2 separate regions of the Homo sapiens genome follow, and region 1 is linked to region 2. Evidence: fine-mapped expression QTL. Tissue or cell type: whole blood. Region 2 holds a variant in brackets; the other region holds the start of a gene. All regions are shown on one strand. Distances are from middle to middle.

Region 1 (5,907 bases), 21 kb before region 2:
GGGCACAAGCCCACAGGCATCACTGAGAGGCTCTGTGGGAGACACCTCAGAGTTGTCGCACTGAGACCAGGAGGCTGCGAGTTTAGCTATCAACTCCCATCCATTATTGCTTGTGGGCTGCTCCTGTGCCACCTTCTGGCCTGTCTTACCTGTGGCCAGGTGTCCTCAGGTGGAGGGGCTGTAGGTGAGGGCAGGAACCCTCTGCAGAAGACTCTAGGGGAGGCTGCGGGTCGGCCAACTCTGACAGCTGCTCCACAGTTGGATCTGTGTGTGTGTGTGTATGTGTATTCACACACACACACATGTACATACACACATGTATATGCATATGAATTTTTTTTTTTTTTAGATGGAGTCTCTGTTGCCCAGGCTGAAGTGCAGTGGCATGATCTCGGCTCACTGCAACCTCCACCTCCCAGGTTCAAGCGATTCTCCTGCCTCAGCCTCCTGAGTGTCTGGGATTGCAGGCACCCGCCACCACTCCCGGCTAATTTTTGTATTTTTAGTAGAGACAGGGTTTCACCATGTTGGCCAGGCTGGTCCCGAACTCCTGACCTCAAGTGATCTGCCTGCCTTGGCCTCCCAAACTGCTGGGATTACAGGCGTGAGCCACCGTGCCTGGACTTATGCATATGATTTTTAAAACAAAAATAAGATCTTACTATGCTTACTGATATTTTTGACTCAACTGTCTTGGACAACTTTTCACATCAACAGAGATATTCTATTCCCACATTATCCATGGTTGAATAGTATTCTATTGGGAGGATGCATCCCCATCAGACATTTGTTTGTTCGTTTGTTTTAGAAACTGGGTCTCACCCTGTTTCCCAGGCTGGAGTGCAGTGACGTGATCGTAGCTCACAGCATCCTTGAATCCCTGGGCTTGAGCGATCCTCCTGCCTCAGCCTCCTGAGTAGCTGGCACTATAGGCACAAGCCACCGCACCTGACCCCCTATCAGACATTTGTTACTTCTAAATGTGGTTGACATAAACAAAGGTGGACAAGAACAATCTTCCTGAAACATGGCTGGCCACAGCACTTGGTATCTCCCTTTTGCTTGAAACCCACTGATAGCTCTCCATTACCCACAGGGCCAAGCCTAAATTCCAAACCTTGGCATTCCAAACCTTGGCCTGTCCCTGGACCTCTGCTCTCTGCCCAGCTCCTCTTCTACAGTCAGACAGTTTGACCCACCGGGTCATCTCAGGTCCTGTCCATTCATACACCTGGGTCTTGGCTTGGGCTCTGTCCCCAGCCTGATAGCGCCCGTCTTCCCCTGCTGCTTGGCCCCATCAAGGACTGACTTCCTTGGAACTCCATCCCTCAGCGGTCAAGTCCTCTCTTTTTCATTATCCCCGGGGCGTAGTCTTATCTTTCTGCTCTCTTTCCATGGATACATTTTCACTTCCCAACAATGCTGGGACAAGTGACCATACTGCTTATGCCTCCAGGGTTCAGATGGCACATTGCACACGCAGACACTTCCTTGGTCAAGGTTTGTTGATGATGAGCAAAATGGCTTGTTCTCTTTCTACCTGGAATGAGAATGGAGATGGAGAGAGGCATCTCTGTGTTCTACTCACTGGGGGGCTGTGACCCCAGTGCCTGGATCTCAGCTTGTTAATGGCTGTTGAAGCCATAAGACCCATGGGGACAGTAAAGTAATGCCCACAAGCCTGCTCCCCTAGAGACAGGTACTACGGAGCAAAGGAGGAGGTGGGAATGGTCTTTCTGGTTCTTACTCCAGGACTGGCAGGAAGGGGAGCTGACATGGAGAGTGGGGGAAGGGCTACTCGGGGTGCTAAGCCCAGCTTCCTGTCTGGATTTTCCTTGACTGCTGCCGGGGGCCTATCTTAGGATGGTCACAGCTGCAGAAATAGATCTCCCCCTTCACCTGTTCTTAAGCAAGGAAGACCTTGCTAACTTCCTGTCAAAAGAACGCGTGCTTTGGTAACTTTTCCAGTACGGGAGACAGTACTGGGGACGCGGGTGCTGAAGTCACCACGATTTTCCTCGTCTGAGGAGCAGTGGCTCACCTTGGCCAGGAAACAGGGCAAATAGCCGCAAGGAGAGAGGCGAGAAGCCGGCCACGTGTTTCCAGCCAGAGTCCTCAGCCTCTTCCGTGAATTCGGGCGGTGTTTCCTTCCTTGGTCTGCTCCAGAAACCACTCTTTCCTGGCAGGAAGCCCCTCTCTCTGTCAGAGTGACAGGGAACAGACCCTTTGTCCTCCTCACTCGTCTGCCCTAGCCCCCAGCCTGCTCCTGCAAAAGTCTCTGTTTCTCCTGAACTTTTCAGCTGAGTCAATCGGGCTCTGGGACCCCGAAACCAAGCCTCCCCAGTCACTCGCTTATTCACTCAACAAACACACCCCCCTTCCCCGCACTAACCCAGGCCCAGTTCTGGGAACCAGCAAGGGGAGGGGAGGGGAGCCCCGAGCAGCGCGGCGGGAGGTGGACATGCCGGGGAGGAGACTGGCCTCCTGGTGGCGGGGGAGGGCTCCTGGGGACCCCAAGTCCGCGGAGGAGGAGACAGGAGGGAGCAGGGAGATGGAAGACCCAGGAGCACGGGCGGGCTCCGCGCATGCGTGGGAAGAGACCTTGGCGTCCTCGGCGTCGCCAAGGCAACCGGCGCCAGCCATGGCCTCTGGGGCGGGCGGAAGCTGGGGTCGCTCCCCACCGCAGAGCGCAGTCCCGACGGTGAGGGCTGAGCCCGGGAGCAGATCCTGCCTTAGCTTGGGAGACGGCAGAGTGGGGAGCTGTCCCTGGAGGGGCCAGATCCTGGAGGGGTGGGGGACGAGGAGAGACAGCCCCAAACCGAGAGGAAGAGGCGTGGCAGGGAGCAGGGAGGCCGCGGGGCGGGGAGGAGAGAACCTGGCCCCTGCGGGGTTAGGGAGGCCACTGGCCGGGGGGGTTGGGGCTCGCGACGTGTCCCCATCCATTCCCCCCACCCCACCTGGCTGACTCCGCGCACACCCCCAGCCCTGGGTCACCTTCCTGCAGCCCCTCTCGTGGGCCGTCCCACCTGCGCCCCCGCAGCCAGGCCGCGTGAAGGAAGGTGAGACTCCCGGGTCCCCCCACCCCACCCCCACCATCACCACCACTCACCCTCTTCTGCCTCGCACATCCTCTGGGAGTCCCCGCAGCACAACCCGCCAACCCATTCTTCACCCCCGGGACAGGGGTGTCAGGGGGAGGGGGACTCGGAGGCCCGGCGTGGGCTTGCTGAACCCCGCTTCCTAGACCTGCTGGAACTGATGATGCTGCAGAACGCGCAGATGCACCAGCTGCTGCTGAGTCGCCTGGTGGCTGGAGCGCTGCAGCCCCGGCCTGCCTCGCCCTGCCCTCAGGTGCGTGTGGGTGGGCCGCCGGGGTCGCTCACCTGTGGGTCCAGGGATGCGGATCCACCTGGGGTTCCTGTTCAGGGGGGAAAAGAACTGGGAGACAGAGGAGCAGGAAGCCAGCCCGTCTCTCTGGCTGGGGCTGTTTGGCATCTGTCATGTTTCAGCCTCCATGAAAGGTTGGGGCGGGGAAGAGACCCCCCAAAGTCCAGACCACCGAGGTCTTGTTTTCAAGGAGGTTTCCCTGTAGTGCCTCCCCCACTGGACTTAAGGCTCCAGGAAGGTAGGCACCCTGGTAACCCTGCCCCATGCATCATGAGCGTCTGGCCTGGTGCCTGACACCGTGTAGGGGCTCAGCTGATATTTGTTGAACGAGTGAATGAATAAATGAATGGTTAGGGATACAAAGCCAGGTTGGCTGTGATGGCACATGGAGAGGTACAAAGCACAAGTGCACATAGGGTTGGGGGATGGGGACAGGCTCCTTGGAGGAGCAGAGGATCTTAGAACCAGCCCTTGAAAGCCAGGTAGGATTTTGACCCTTGGAGGAGGCGAAGGGTGTGTCCCCCATCCAGGCTGGCAGGGGCAGAGTCAGGAGACAGAATGGGGGAAACCGTGTGCGGCAGTGTGTGTGTGCAAGAGTGTGTGTGTGTATGTGTGTGCAAGTGGGTGTCTGTGTGCATGCGTGTGTGTGTGCAAGGCTGTGTACATGCATATGTGTGTGCAAGTGTGTGTTCACGTGCGTGTGCAAGGGTGTGCGTGCACGTGTGTGCGAGCGGGTTGTGAAGGCAAGTGTGTGCGTGCAAGCAAGTGTGTGCGTGCAAGCAAGTGTGTGCAAGTGGGGGTGTGTGCAAGCGTGTGTGTGCATGCATGTGCATATAGCTCTAAGGCTGAGCCTTACTCAGCCAATAGTGGGCATCCTGAGGTCAGGAGAAGCAGGGACTGGGTGGAGAGAGAATGTTGTTCAGCTCGGAGGAGGCGGAGAGGGGTTCAAGGAATCCAGACAGAAGGAGACCCTGAGGAGCTACTGCCACCCCTCACCCCTGGGTCCTCAGTGATGACACATAGGTGGGTCCAGGGGCCGGGGGTGAGGCCGGGGACAGCTCAGTGGACTCCTGGCCCCAGCTCTGGGGGTCACACCTGGAATCAACTGGGTGGCCAAGTTGCTCAACGTCCTTGAGCTACAGGAGTAAATGTCTCCACAATTTGTTGTCCGCATGTAGTAAACGCTCAATAAACACAACCCATTCTTTTTTTCTTTTCTTTTCTTTTTCTTTTTTTTGAGACGGAGTCTCTCTCTGTCACCTAGGCTGGAGTATAGTGATGCAATCTCGGCACACTGCAACTTCCACCTCCTGGGTTCAAACAACTCTCCTGCCCCAGCCTCCCGAGTAGCTGGGACCACAGGCGCCTGCCACCACACCCGGCTACTTTTTTGTGTTTTTAGTAGAGACGGGGTTTCACTATGTTAGCCAGGATGGTCTCGATCTCCTGACCTTGTGATCCGTCCGCCTCAGCCTCCCAAAGTGCCGGGATTACAGGCATGAGCCACCGCGCCCCGCCTACACAAGCCATTCTTTTTTTTTTTTTCCTTTTTTTTCTTTTGAGATGGAGTCTCGCTCTGCCGCCCAGGCTGGAGTGCAGTAGCTCGATCTCTGCTCACTGCAAGCTCCGCCTCCCGGGTTCACGCCATTCTCCTGCCTCAGCCTCCTGAGTAGCTGGGACTACAGGCGCCCACCACCATGCCCAGCTAATTTTTTTTTTTTTTTTTTTGGTATTTTTAGTAGAGACGGGGTTTCACCGTGTTAGCCAGGATGGTCTCAATCTCCTGACCTTGTGATCCGCCCGCCTCGGCCTCCCACAGTGCTGGGATTACAGGCGTGAGCCACCATGCCTGGCCACAAGCCATTCTTACAAAGCCTATCTGGAGGAAATAACTTAGGGGAATGGAGGAGTGGCGGTGGGGAGAGCCTGATGGTAGATTCTCATTTCCCCTCCCTGTTTTGCACAATCCCCAGGTCTACCTGGAGGTTCCACAGGAAGAGCCTGAGGAGGAGGAGGAGGAGATGGACGTGCGGGAGAAAGGGCCTTTGGTGTTTCACCACCACTACTTGCCCTATTTGATGCCCTCCCCGGGTGCCCTGCTGCCCTGGCCAGCCCCCTTCTTCCCCACCCCTGCTTGTCAGCCCTACTTGCAGGACGTGCCCAGGATTCAGCACTGTCCTGCCTCCAGGGAAAGGGAGGTGTAAGTGAGGCTGGGTGCTGCCAGGGTTCTGCTCTGGGCTGGAAGTTGCAGAAGAGCTGTGCAGGGGCTGGTGGTCGGTGGAGATAACTTGTGGGTGAAACTCCAGAGGCCACCCCTGGGCCTCTGATGGGGGTCTTTTTCTTTCCCCCATCTCAGGAGAGCTGTGCCCCCACCCCCACCCCCCAGTGCCACAGGGACTGTGGGTGCTGATGTACCCCCGGCTTCAGGTAGGGCTGGGGTGGTGGGCAGCGGGGCCCAGGCCTGGGAGTGAATCAGGAGGCCAGGAGGGCCCTGTGCCCTCTGGTGGGGTTTGGGGGTTT
Region 2 (5,000 bases):
AAAACCATCGGTATTTGTATATGGCGTGACTACCCAGGTAGAAAATCCAAAAGAATCATCAGGCAAGTGACTCAAAGTAATAAGAGATTTTAGCAAGGCAACTAGCTAAAAGATCAATATTCAAAAATTGGTTGTTCTTGTGTGTATCAGTAACATACAAAAACATAATTTAAAAAATACATCAATTATAACAGTCAAAAAAGTAGAGCAAGAAAACTAACAAAACCTAGAACTATAAGACCTATAGTAAGAAAATTATAATACTTTATTGAAAAATATTAAAGACAATCTAAATAAATGGAGAGATAACACATGTTCATGGATAGGAAATTCAATATTATAAAGATGTAAATTATTCTGTAACTGATCTATAGGGTCAGTGCAATTCCAATTAACCCCAGTAGGGTTTTTCATGGAAACTGAAAGCTGATTTTAAGGTTTATATGGAAGAACAAAAGAACCAAGACGCCCCTAAAGGAAATGAATAAGGTGAGGGATTTGCTCTGCTAGATATTAAGACTTTCTGTAAAATATGGTGTTAGCGTAGGTATAGGCAAATTAACTGATGAAACAGAATAAAGAGCCCAGAAATACACCTATGCTTGTTTGAAACTTTGATGCATGACAAAGATGACATAGAAGATCACTGGGTAAGAGAAGAGCCTGTTAAATGACACAGGATCAATTGATTAACCATATAGAGAAAAAAAGGGGAAAATGTATCCCTATCTCACACCAAATATAGAAATCAATTCCATTTAGATTAAGGATTTATATGTGAAAGAAACTCTTTATAAGAAAATGTAGGAGAGTATTTCCATATCCTTGGGGCAAGACCTCGAAATTGTCAATCATAAAATCAACAATTGGTATCTTTGACTAAGATACAAAGAAACAGGTCGGGTGCGGCTGTGACGCCAGCACTTTGGGAGGCCGAGGCGGGCTGATCACGCGGTCAGAAGATCGAGACCATCCTGGCCAACATGGTGAAACCCCATCGCTACTGAAAATACAAAAAAATTAGCCAGGCATGGTGGCGGGCACCTGTAGTCCCAGCTACTCGGGAGGCTGAGGCAGGAGAATGGCGTGAACCTAGGAGGCGGAGCTTGCAGTGAGCTGAGATCGCGACACTGCATTCCAGCCTGGGTGACAGAGTGAGACTCTATCTCAAAAAAAAAAAAAAAAAAAAAAAAGACACAAAGAAACATTTCAAAGAAAAGGAAACATGTCTAAACAAGTGAAAAGATTATTTAGCTCGAGTAGCCAGGGAAATTAAAATTAAAATTACAATGGGACCGATACTATTTTATATGTATTAGGTTGGCAAAAGTTAAGAAATATGACAAGACCAATTGTTGGAGAGGCCGTAGGTTAATAGGCACCCTTCTAACTGCTGATGAGAGTGTATATTGGTGCTCTCAGAGATAATTAGGCATTATCTTGTAAACGGAATATTCTTATACCCTGTAACTCACAGTTCCATTCTTAGATGTATGCCCTAGAAACGCTGTCACACTAAGAACCAGACATGTCTTTGTGTTTACTTCTCTTTTTTTTTTTTTTTTTTTTTTTTTTGAGACGGGGTCTCGTTGTGTCGCCCAGGCTGGAGTGCAGTGGCGCGATCTTGGCTTACTGCAACCTCCACCTCCCGGGTTCGAGCTATTCTCCTGCCTCAGTCTCCCGAATAGCTGAAACTACAGGCGTACGCCACCACACCCAGCTAATTTTTGTATTTTTAGTAGAGATGGGGTTTCATCTTGTTGGCCAGGACCGTCTCTATCTCTTGACCTCATGATCCTCCTGCCTTGGCCTCCCAAAGTGCTGGGATTACAGGCATGAGCCACTGCTCCCGGCCTTACTTCTCACTATCTGTGTGACCTTGAGCAAATCACTTAATCTTTCTGTGCCTCAATTTCCTCATCTGCAAAAAGGAATCAATAATAGTATCTTCCTCATAGGGTTTTTGTGCAGATTAAACAAATAAAATAAGTAAATATTTTAAAGCATTTAGAACAGTGCCTAGCACACAGTAACGCTATATAACTGTTTCATAAAATAAAAATAAATAGGCATAGCCAGGTGCAGCAGTTCAAGACTGTAGTCCCAACTAATCAGGAGGCTGAGGTGGGAAGATCACTGGATCCCAGGAGTTCGAGGTTGTAGTGTGCTATGATCATGCCTGTGAATAGCCACTGCACTCCAGCCTGGGAAATATAGTGTGACCCCATCTCAGTAAATAAATAAATAAATAAATAAATAGAGATGCATATGTAATAAAGCACTTAAAAATAAGAGAACAATAAACACAAAATTCCAGAGGGTGGCTACCTGTGGGTGGGAGGCAAGTAGCATAAAAGTGGACAAGTGGTGGCCAGGTGTGGTGGCTCACGCCTGTAATCCCAGCATTTTGGGAGGCCGAGGTGGGCGGATCATGAGGTCAAGAGATCGAGACTCTCCTGGCCAACATAGTGAAACCCTGTCGCTACCAAAAACACAAAAATTAGCTGGGCATGGTGGCATGCGCACCTGTAGTCCCAGCTACTTGGGAGGCTGAGACAAGAGAATCGCTTGAACCCAGCAGGCGAAGGTTGTGGTGAGCCAAGATTGTGCCACTGCACTCCAGCCTGGGCGACAAGAATGAAAACTCTGTCTCAAAAAAAAAAAAAAAAAAAAAAAGCAGATAAGTGGTGTTTGCAGTTTGGTGATACTCCATCCTTGTGCTGAGTGGCAGCTTCAGGTGTGTTTGGTATATTACTGTGCAGTATGATGTATATGTATGTTACATAAGCTTTTTATGCGTTACCTAGTAAATTTTACAAAAATAATAAAAGGGAAAAAGGGCCTTTCTACGTGCCTAGAAAGAAGAGGCTTCATGGGAATGTGAGCCATGGGTTAGGAAAGACCCCCTCGAACCGAGGCAGGTAGGAAGTGAGTGACTGAGATTCATTATGAACCCACCACGCCTGC[C/T]GGGGAGAACAGGGACTGTCCCTTCCCCTCTGCATCAGCTCAGATGGTCCAGATCACAGCCCACGTGGGCCCCTAAATAAGGAGGCAGCCCCACATTTCTACATCGGCCACCGAGATGGCAGAGCAGAGGAAGGAGAGAGGGGAGACAAATCAGGAAAGGAGCGCCAGGGCAAGTGCGTGAGCTCAGAGACCCAGCAGGGCAGGGCAGGAGCTTCACAGAGTGCAGAATGTCGAGCCACAGGAGCGCTGGGGATTCCCCAACCCCTGCACTTACCAGCGAGAAACTGAGACCCAGAGAGGGGAACGGACTAAAACTCAGACCTCGACACTGCCAAAATCCTTCCCATGCTGCCACGCTTCATTGGAGGGAAAGTGAGAAGCTCAACCTTACCCCTGTGGGCTCCAAGAAGGGTAGCTCTGGGATCCCGGGCAGGAAATTGGTGACAAGGTGACAAGGTGCGCGTGTCACAGCTGCCCAGTTCACGGCTTATTCAGTCTTCTCCCTCCCCCCACTCCCCACCAGAAGTGACGTGCTTCCTGTGCCCCGGTTCCCACCCTAAACTAGCCTCATTTAGCTCCACTCCCATTCCGCTTTTTTTTTTTTTAATTGTGGTAAAACGTACACAACAGAATTTACCATTTCAATTTTTTTTTTTTTTTTAGACTGAGTCTCAGTCACCCAGGCTGGAGTGCAGTGGTGTGATCTCGGCTCACTGCAACCTCTGCCTCCCGAGTTCACGTGATTCTTGTGCCTCAGCCCGCAGAGTAACCGGGACCACAGGCACCTGCCACCACGCCTGGCTAATTTTTGTATTTTTAGTAGAGACAGGGTTTCACCATGTTGGCCAGGCTGGTCTCGAACTCCTGACCTCAAGTGAACTGCCTTCCTCGGCCTCCTAAAGTGCTAGGATTACAGGCAAGAGCCACTGCGTCCAGCCAATTTTTTGTTGTGTTGTTTTTAAGACAGAGTCTTGCTTTTGTCACCTAGGCTGGAGTGCAGTGGCACAATCACAGTTCGTGGCAACCTCTGACCCCTGAGCTCAAGTGACCCTCCCTCCTCAACTTCCCAAGTGACTGGGACTACAAGTGTGCAGCCACCAGGCTTGGCTAATTTCTGTAGTTTTTGTAGAGACAGAGTGTTGCTTATGTTGCCCAGCCTGGTCTCAAACTCTTGAGCTCAAGCAATCCTCCCACCTCAGCCTCCCAAATGCTGGGAATGAGCCACCGTGCTAGGCCCATTTTAATTATGTTTAAGTGTACAGTTTGGGGCACTAAGTACATTCACATTGTTCTGCAACCATCACCACCATCCATCTCTGGAGCTCTCTCTTTCTCTTTTCTTTCTTTTTTTTTTTTTGAGATGGAGTTTCGCTCTGTTGCCCAGGCTGGAGTGCAGTGGTGTGATCTTGGCTCACTGTAACCTCTGCCTCCCAGGTTCAAACGATTCTCTTGCCTCAGTGTTTTTGTTGTTGTTGTTGTTGTTTGTTTGTTTGTTTGTTTTGTAGAGATGGAGCCTCACTCTGTCGCCCAGGCTGGAGTGCTGGAGTGCAGTGGTGTGATCTCGGCTCACTGCAACCTCCGCCTCCCGAGTTCAAGCAATTCTCCTGCCTCAGCCTCCTGAGTAGCTGGGACTACAGGTGCACGCCACCACGCCTGGTTAATTTCTTTTGTATTTTAGCAGAGATGGGGTTTCACCATGTTGCCTAGGCTGGTCTCAAACTCTTGAGCTCAGGCAATCCGCCCGCCTTGGCCTCCCAAAGTGTTGGGATTACAGGCATGAGCCACCGTGCCTGGCCTTGCCTCAGCCTCTTGAGTAGCTGGGATTACAGGCACGTGCCGACTGGCTAATTTTTGTATTTTTAGTAGAGATGGGGTTTCATCATGTCGGCCAGGCTGGTCTCGAACTCCTGACCTCAAATGATCCGCCCACCTCAGCCTCCCAAAGTGCTGGTATTACAGGCATGAACCACCACGCTTGGCCAGAACTGCCTTCCTTTTGAAGGCTGAGCAATATCCTATTGTGCGTGTGTGCC

Evidence for each region. PIP is the estimated chance that this variant, and not a neighbour inherited with it, causes the effect.
Region 1: it holds the start of PRR29, and the variant in region 2 is fine-mapped to the expression of PRR29 in whole blood (TOPMed, PIP above 0.99).

Annotation. Positions count from the first base shown.
Region 1 is chr17:63,995,724-64,001,630 of GRCh38, forward strand. PRR29 (proline rich 29) reads left to right here and starts at 2,628. Exons shown (of 6, transcript NM_001164257.2): 1 at 2,628-2,701; 2 at 2,984-3,059; 3 at 3,245-3,351; 4 at 5,361-5,587; 5 at 5,744-5,814. The coding sequence starts at 2,642. It overlaps PRR29-AS1 (PRR29 antisense RNA 1), which reads right to left and starts at 4,176. Exons shown (of 3, transcript NR_126169.1): 1 at 2,602-4,176; 2 at 2,042-2,199; 3 at 348-1,540. RefSeq lists a silencer at 2,511-2,560 and an enhancer at 2,814-3,791.
Region 2 is chr17:64,017,165-64,022,164 of GRCh38, forward strand. It overlaps ICAM2 (intercellular adhesion molecule 2), which reads right to left and starts at 3,469. Exons shown (of 5, transcript NM_001099789.2): 1 at 3,359-3,469. RefSeq lists enhancers at 3,089-3,208, 3,303-3,803, 3,549-3,638, 3,859-3,908. The variant C/T (reference allele first, on the strand shown) is at 2,968.